Linked DNA regions of Homo sapiens. The protein of the gene in region 1 interacts with the protein of each later gene in a biochemical or structural test. Each region holds a gene or a part of one and is shown in the gene's direction. Other genes may lie near its edges.

Region 1 (3,500 bases):
GAAATACAGCTCTTAGCATTACTATCTTTGAGTCACTGAAATGTTCTTAATATTCAAGAAAAGTTCTATTTCCTGAAGTTTCCAAGATCACCAGGCTACATTTATGTCATATTGCTTTAATCTTTTATAAAGTTTGTTATCTACTTTTATATTGACTTCAATTTTTCCCTCTTAATGCTTTCTATAAATAATGTCTTGCATATAATGCCATGCTTTGTATTTTTGAAAGGTTCGATATGTATAAGTAATTGAGATATAATTCACGTACAATGAAATTCGTTTGTTTAAATTATATAGTTCACTGGTTTTTAGTATATGCGCAAAATTGTGCAACCATCAGCACAGTCTAATTGCAGAACATTTACATCACCCCAGAAAACTCCTCACCTATTAGCAGTTATTCCTATACTCCTCTCCCCGCAGCTCCTGGCAACCACTAAACTTTTTCTCTATATGGATTTGCGTATTCTGGACATTTCAGTTTACTCCTTAAAAAATGTATTGAGTGATTTGATACAAACTTAATAAAGAATCTCACTTTAAATAGAAAACTGTCTGCTTACATCTAGTAGCTTCTCCCATAGACAGCTTTTAATGACAGTTTGTCAAAGAATTGGTATTTGGAAGTGGAGATGGATTAATGGGTAGGAGAGGGGAAGATGGTAGAAGCGGGGGGGCGGGAAAGGGTAAAGAGGTGACAAAGTTGAGGCAAGCAAATAACTTGATTTGAGACTTAGCTCCTCTTTAGATCTACCTTACTCTATGAATGAATAAATTGATAATAAATATGATTTATTTTCTCTCCATTCAGTCTGTGGCTCCAGCAGCCTTGTTTCTAGCAGCTAAAGTGGAGGAGCAGCCCAAAAAATTGGAACATGTCATCAAGGTAGCACATACTTGTCTCCATCCTCAGGAATCCCTTCCTGATACTAGAAGTGAGGTAGGAGATTAATTACACATCTGTTTTTCTTAATTTTTTTCCTTTCTTTTTTTTTCCCTACTCCCAAGCATGCCTGGATCTTTATGTATTTCAATGCAACTTAATTTTATAACTTCGATTTATTGAAGTTTAGATTGGTGTTGTTAAAAGAATATTTTAGTGTTTGTGTTTTTCTTAACAGTAAGAAAATCAGGCCAGGTATGGTGGCTCACCATACCTGTAATCCTAGCACTTTGGGAGGGTAAGGTGGGAGAATCACTTTAGGCCAGAAGTTTAAGACCAACCTGGACAACATAGCAAGACCCTGTCTCTATATTTAAAAAAAAGAAAAAAAAAAGCCAGATGTGGTGGCTCATGCCTGTAATCCCAGCACTTTGGGAGGCTGAGGCAGGAGAATTGCTTGAGTCCAGTTCGAGACAAGCTCTGGCAACAAAGTGAGACCCCATTTCTACAAAAAAAGAAAAACAACAACAACAACAACAACAAAAAACAACTGGGCATGCTGGCTCACATCTTTAGTCCCAGCTACTTGGGAGACTGAGGTGGGAGGGTTGCTTGAGCATGGGATGTTGAGGCTGCAGTGAGCCATGATCACACCACTGCAGGCAACAGTGCCAGGACTCTGTCTGAAAAACAAAACACATAAATTTTATGGCGAAAGTTTTGTATTTGTTGCAGTAAAATTTGAAAATACAGAAAAATTCAAGAATAAAATATCTCTCAGATATATTCTAGACCAATGGTCCCAGACCTTTTTTGGCACCTGGGACTGGTTTCATGGGAGACAGTTTTTACATGGACAGGGGGTGGGGTTGGAGATGGTTTTGGGATGATTCAAGCACATTACATTTATTGTTCACTTTATTTCTATTATTGTTACATTGTTATACATAATGAAATAATTACGTAACTCACCATAACGTAGAATCAGTGGGAGCCCTGAGCATCTCTTTTTTTTTGAGACGGAATCTTGCTCTTGTCGCCAGGCTGGAGTGCAGTGGCGCAATCTCGGCTCACTGCAACCTCCACCTGCCGGTTTCAAGCGATTCTCCTGCCTCAGCCTCCTAAGTAGCTGGGACTACAGGTGTGCACCACCACACACAGCTAATTTTTGTATTTTTAGCAGAGACAGGGTTTCACCATGTTAGCCAGAATGGTCTCGATCTCTTGACCTTGTGATCTGCCCGCCTTGGCCTCCCACAGTGGTGGGATTACAGGCATGAGCCACTGTGCCCGGCCACCTTGAGGTGCTTTTCCTGCAACTAGATGGTCCCATCTGGGGGTGATGGGAGACAGTGACAGATCATCAGGCATTAGATTCTCATAAAGAGCAGCAAATTAGATCCCTTGCATGGGCAGTTCACCACAGGGTTCAAGTGCTCCTATAAGAATCTAATGCCACTGCTGATCAGACAAGAGGCAGTGCTCAGGTGGCAATATGTATGGTGGGGAGAGGCTATAAATACAGATGAAGCTTCACTCACTCGTACCTGCTGCTCAACTCCTGCTGTGTGGCCTAGTTCATAACAGGCCATGGACCCCCTGTTATATAGACAACTGAAGCACAGGTATACTAATGAACCACTGTTATTTGTGGCTTCTTTTCTATAGATAGCTATGTGTGCATGTATTTTGTCTCTGGTTTGTTTTCATTTGCTTACTATATCCCAAATATTTTCCCATCTGATGGATTCTCTACTTTTTAAAAATGTCTGGCTAGTATTTAATGATATATATGTGAATGTATGTATTTTTAACAATTCTCCATGAAGAAGTCTAGATAATTTCTAGCTTTTAAAATCACTATAAATGTTATGAAAAATATTCTTTTTTTTTTTTTTGGAGACAGGGTCTCATTCTGTTGCCCTGGCTGGAGTCCAGTAGTGTGATCATGGCTCACCGCGGCCTTGACCTTCCGGGCTCAGTGATCCCCCTGACCTCAGCATCCCGAGTAGCTGGGACTATAGGTGTGCGCCACCATGCCCAGCTAGTTTTTGTAGAGATGGGGTTTCACCATGTTGCCCAGGCTGCTCTCGACCTCCTGAGCTCAAGTAATTCGCCCACCTTGGCCTCCCAAGTGCTGGGATTACAGGCGTGAGCCACTGCACCTGGCTGAAAAATATTATTATACATTTTTATTATGGATCCTTAAATGAGTAGTTTCACTATTTTTTTTTTTTTTAACTTTTTTTTCGAGTTGGAGTTTTGCTCTTGTTGCCCAGGATTGAGTGCAATGGTGCAATCTCAGCCAACCGCAACCTCCCCCTCCTGGGTTCAAGCGATTTGCCTGCCTCAGCCTCCCGAGTAGCTGGGATTACAGGCATGTGCCACTACACCCGGCTAATTTTGTATTTTTAGTTGAAACGGGGTTTCTCCATGTTGGTCAGGCTGGTCTCGAACTCCTGACCTGAGGTTATCCACCTGCCTCAGCCTCCCAAAGTGCTGGGATTATAGGCGTGAGCCACCATGTCCAGCCAGCTTTGTTTTTTTTGAGACAGAATCTCGTTTTGTTGCCCAGGATAGAGTGCAGTGGCAAGATTGTAGCCAGGATGGTCTCGAT
Region 2 (2,627 bases), on another chromosome or scaffold:
GAGACATTGGTGTAGAAATGGAGGTGATGCCTACCCCCACCATGGAATCACGCTTCAATTTAAAAGTTGTTAAACATGTTGACACAGTTTTTTTTTTGTTTTTGATATAATCCTGATTTTCCTTGGTGAATAAAAGAGAGGTATTAGAAACAGTTTATCAAATTCTTAAAAAGATTTTCTTGAATATTGGCTTTGTACAAAAGTCTGTGCTATTTTCTGTGAGGTATCTGAAACTCAATAAAACAAAGGTCCTGCCTTCTGAAAGCACTCACTCTAATAGGAGCTAACCCCACACACACACACACATGTCAAAAGCCATAACTTTTATTCTCTACTCCTTATTCTTCTCAGGTCTGATCATTTTGTATAAAGCAAATTGGCTGCTTCTCCAAAATTGAGTTTTATAAGTGGGGAAGTCCAGAGTTCTGCCAACTGTAGTTTTAGAAGCCTCAGATTTATGCAAATGAGTATGATTTTATATTTTTTATTTTAAATCAGATTTCAGTAACTCCCTGCCAGCTTATTTTTGCTTTTTGAAGAACCTTATGGGAGGAAAGCCACAATTCTCTATAGTTCCTCTTTAGCTGATGAGAAAAATGAAAGCGTGTAAGAAAGATAGATGCGCTTAAATGTTTCCTAGAAAGTATAAGTCACCTTCAATAGAAATTTGTAGATAGGATATCTTCATTTATATTTGTATATAGTTGAAATTCAAGCTGATAATGTAGCTTTTCCTGAGCCCTTTTTATGCATTGGTACTTGGAGAGAGATTTGTTAATTCCCAGAGGGAATCTTAAATCATTTTGTTGTTATAGGGAGATTTCCACCCGAACTCTAGGCTACTAGAAACAGCAGTACTTGAATGTTCTTAATAGGCTCATAGTTGCAAGAAAGCAACAGCTAAGAATGTATTTTATTGCATGCTTAATAACAGCTCCTTATTTGTATGGTTCTGTTACAATGTGGTAGGAGACAAGACGAACAGTAATCCTTACGATGTTTATTCTGTGAGTTAAAATAGCATCTTGGAAGCACAAAAATCAATCTTAGGACACTTAGTCAATAAAAGGGATATATTGCTCTCTCTCTCTCCATTACAACATTTCTGTAAATAGGAATGTATCCAAAACACAAAGCAAAGGGCTCTTATCAGTGTGATGTTGATGCCCATGCAGAGCATAGGAATTAGCAGTCTGACTGAATATGCGCCACAGGACTTCCACCATCTTCTCCTGCTCTGCCACTGTAGGCCCCTTCTGCTGCCTGCCATACTTGTCCATTTCCTTTGTTTAAAGCAGGGCAAACCTATAGGAGTAGCAGTGTATGTAGTAGTATAATTTTATTTGATTTTGAGTTTTTAAAAAATTGTATAGAATGAAAAACACAACCTTAAGCAAAACCTTTTTCTGTTTGTTGATTTATCAGAACAAGAAATTGGATTCTCAGGATTTATAGTTAAAGAAGGGAGCAAACCCATTTTAATCATGCATATTTTTCAGGATGATCCGTTGGTGCTGAATGAGATCAGAGAAGACCTTCGAGTAGAGTGTTCGAAGTTTGGACAAATTAGGAAACTCCTTCTCTTTGATGTAAGTTCATGGCTTGGACATATGGATCCTAAAGCAATAATTCCTCCACCTTATAAGTTCTTCTCAGATGTTAGTATACCCCTGAATTTTAGATTAATGTTTTTATATAGTAGTCCACTATCTTGTGATAATCATCTATTAGCAATAATGAGATGAACGTGGATTACAAGCCAAGGATTTGATAGATTTGGTATGCCTTGCTTATTTTCCGTCTTCATTACCCTAGAGTACATGATCAGGTGAAAGAAGGTACAGGAAAAATGTATGAGATCTCTGGTTCCCTATTAGTCACATTTTCCCCTCTTTGTGAATTATTCTCATCCTCCATATTTGGAACAATCAGGGACAATATTCTCCTGTATATTTCCTCTTCTCATCCTCTTTTTACTTCCAGAATTGACACCCAATAATTAAGAGTCACCATTTATTGCTTGTGTATTACAAGCTACTTTACATGTTATCTCACTTCTCAAAACCCTTTGAGGCAGGTTAGCACTATTACACCCATTTTACAGATGAGGAAGCTAACACTTTAGAAATTGAACACCTGGCTCAAGGTTGTTCATTTGGTAACTGACAGAGCCAGGATTTAATCCCAGGGCAATATGACTTCAGAGTTTACACTCTTAACAATTATACTGTCCTGCTTCTCATTAGACAGGGATGTCAGCAGAAACATTTCCAAGGACATTGTGCTTGGTTCTTGCTAGGTAAGATTGAGGTAAAGAAGCAGCTGACTGCACGTGACTGGCTGGGATAAAATGGAAGAAAGACTTCATACATAAAGTCTTTTACTTCAGAGTATCAGAGAGAACACTACTACTTACCTACTTTGTGAAATGTATGTGTTTTATTTTTAATCTTATCATTCATTCCTTTTTTTTCTTTCTTATCTTTCTAGAGGCACCCAGATGGTGTGGCCTCTGTGTCCTTTCGGGATCCAGAGGAAGCTGATTATTGTATTCAGACTCTCGATGGAAGATGGTTTGGTGGCCGTCAAATCACTGCCCAGGCATGGGATGGGACTACAGATTATCA

The links. Proteins that work in one complex are often made in the same cells at the same time.
Region 2: the proteins of CCNT1 (region 1) and HTATSF1 form a complex in vitro, tested with the Homo sapiens proteins (one study listed by BioGRID).

What each region holds. Positions count from the first base shown.
Region 1 is NC_000012.12:48,703,208-48,706,707, reverse strand, and holds part of CCNT1 (cyclin-T1), read left to right. Parts: intron 1-811; coding exon 812-940; intron 941-3,500. UniProt on the Homo sapiens protein: Regulatory subunit of the cyclin-dependent kinase pair (CDK9/cyclin-T1) complex, also called positive transcription elongation factor B (P-TEFb), which facilitates the transition from abortive to productive elongation by phosphorylating the CTD (C-terminal domain) of the large subunit of RNA polymerase II (RNA Pol II).
Region 2 is NC_000023.11:136,507,592-136,510,218, forward strand, and holds part of HTATSF1 (17S U2 SnRNP complex component HTATSF1), read left to right. Parts: intron 1-1,499; coding exon 1,500-1,589; intron 1,590-2,490; coding exon 2,491-2,627. UniProt on the Homo sapiens protein: Component of the 17S U2 SnRNP complex of the spliceosome, a large ribonucleoprotein complex that removes introns from transcribed pre-mRNAs.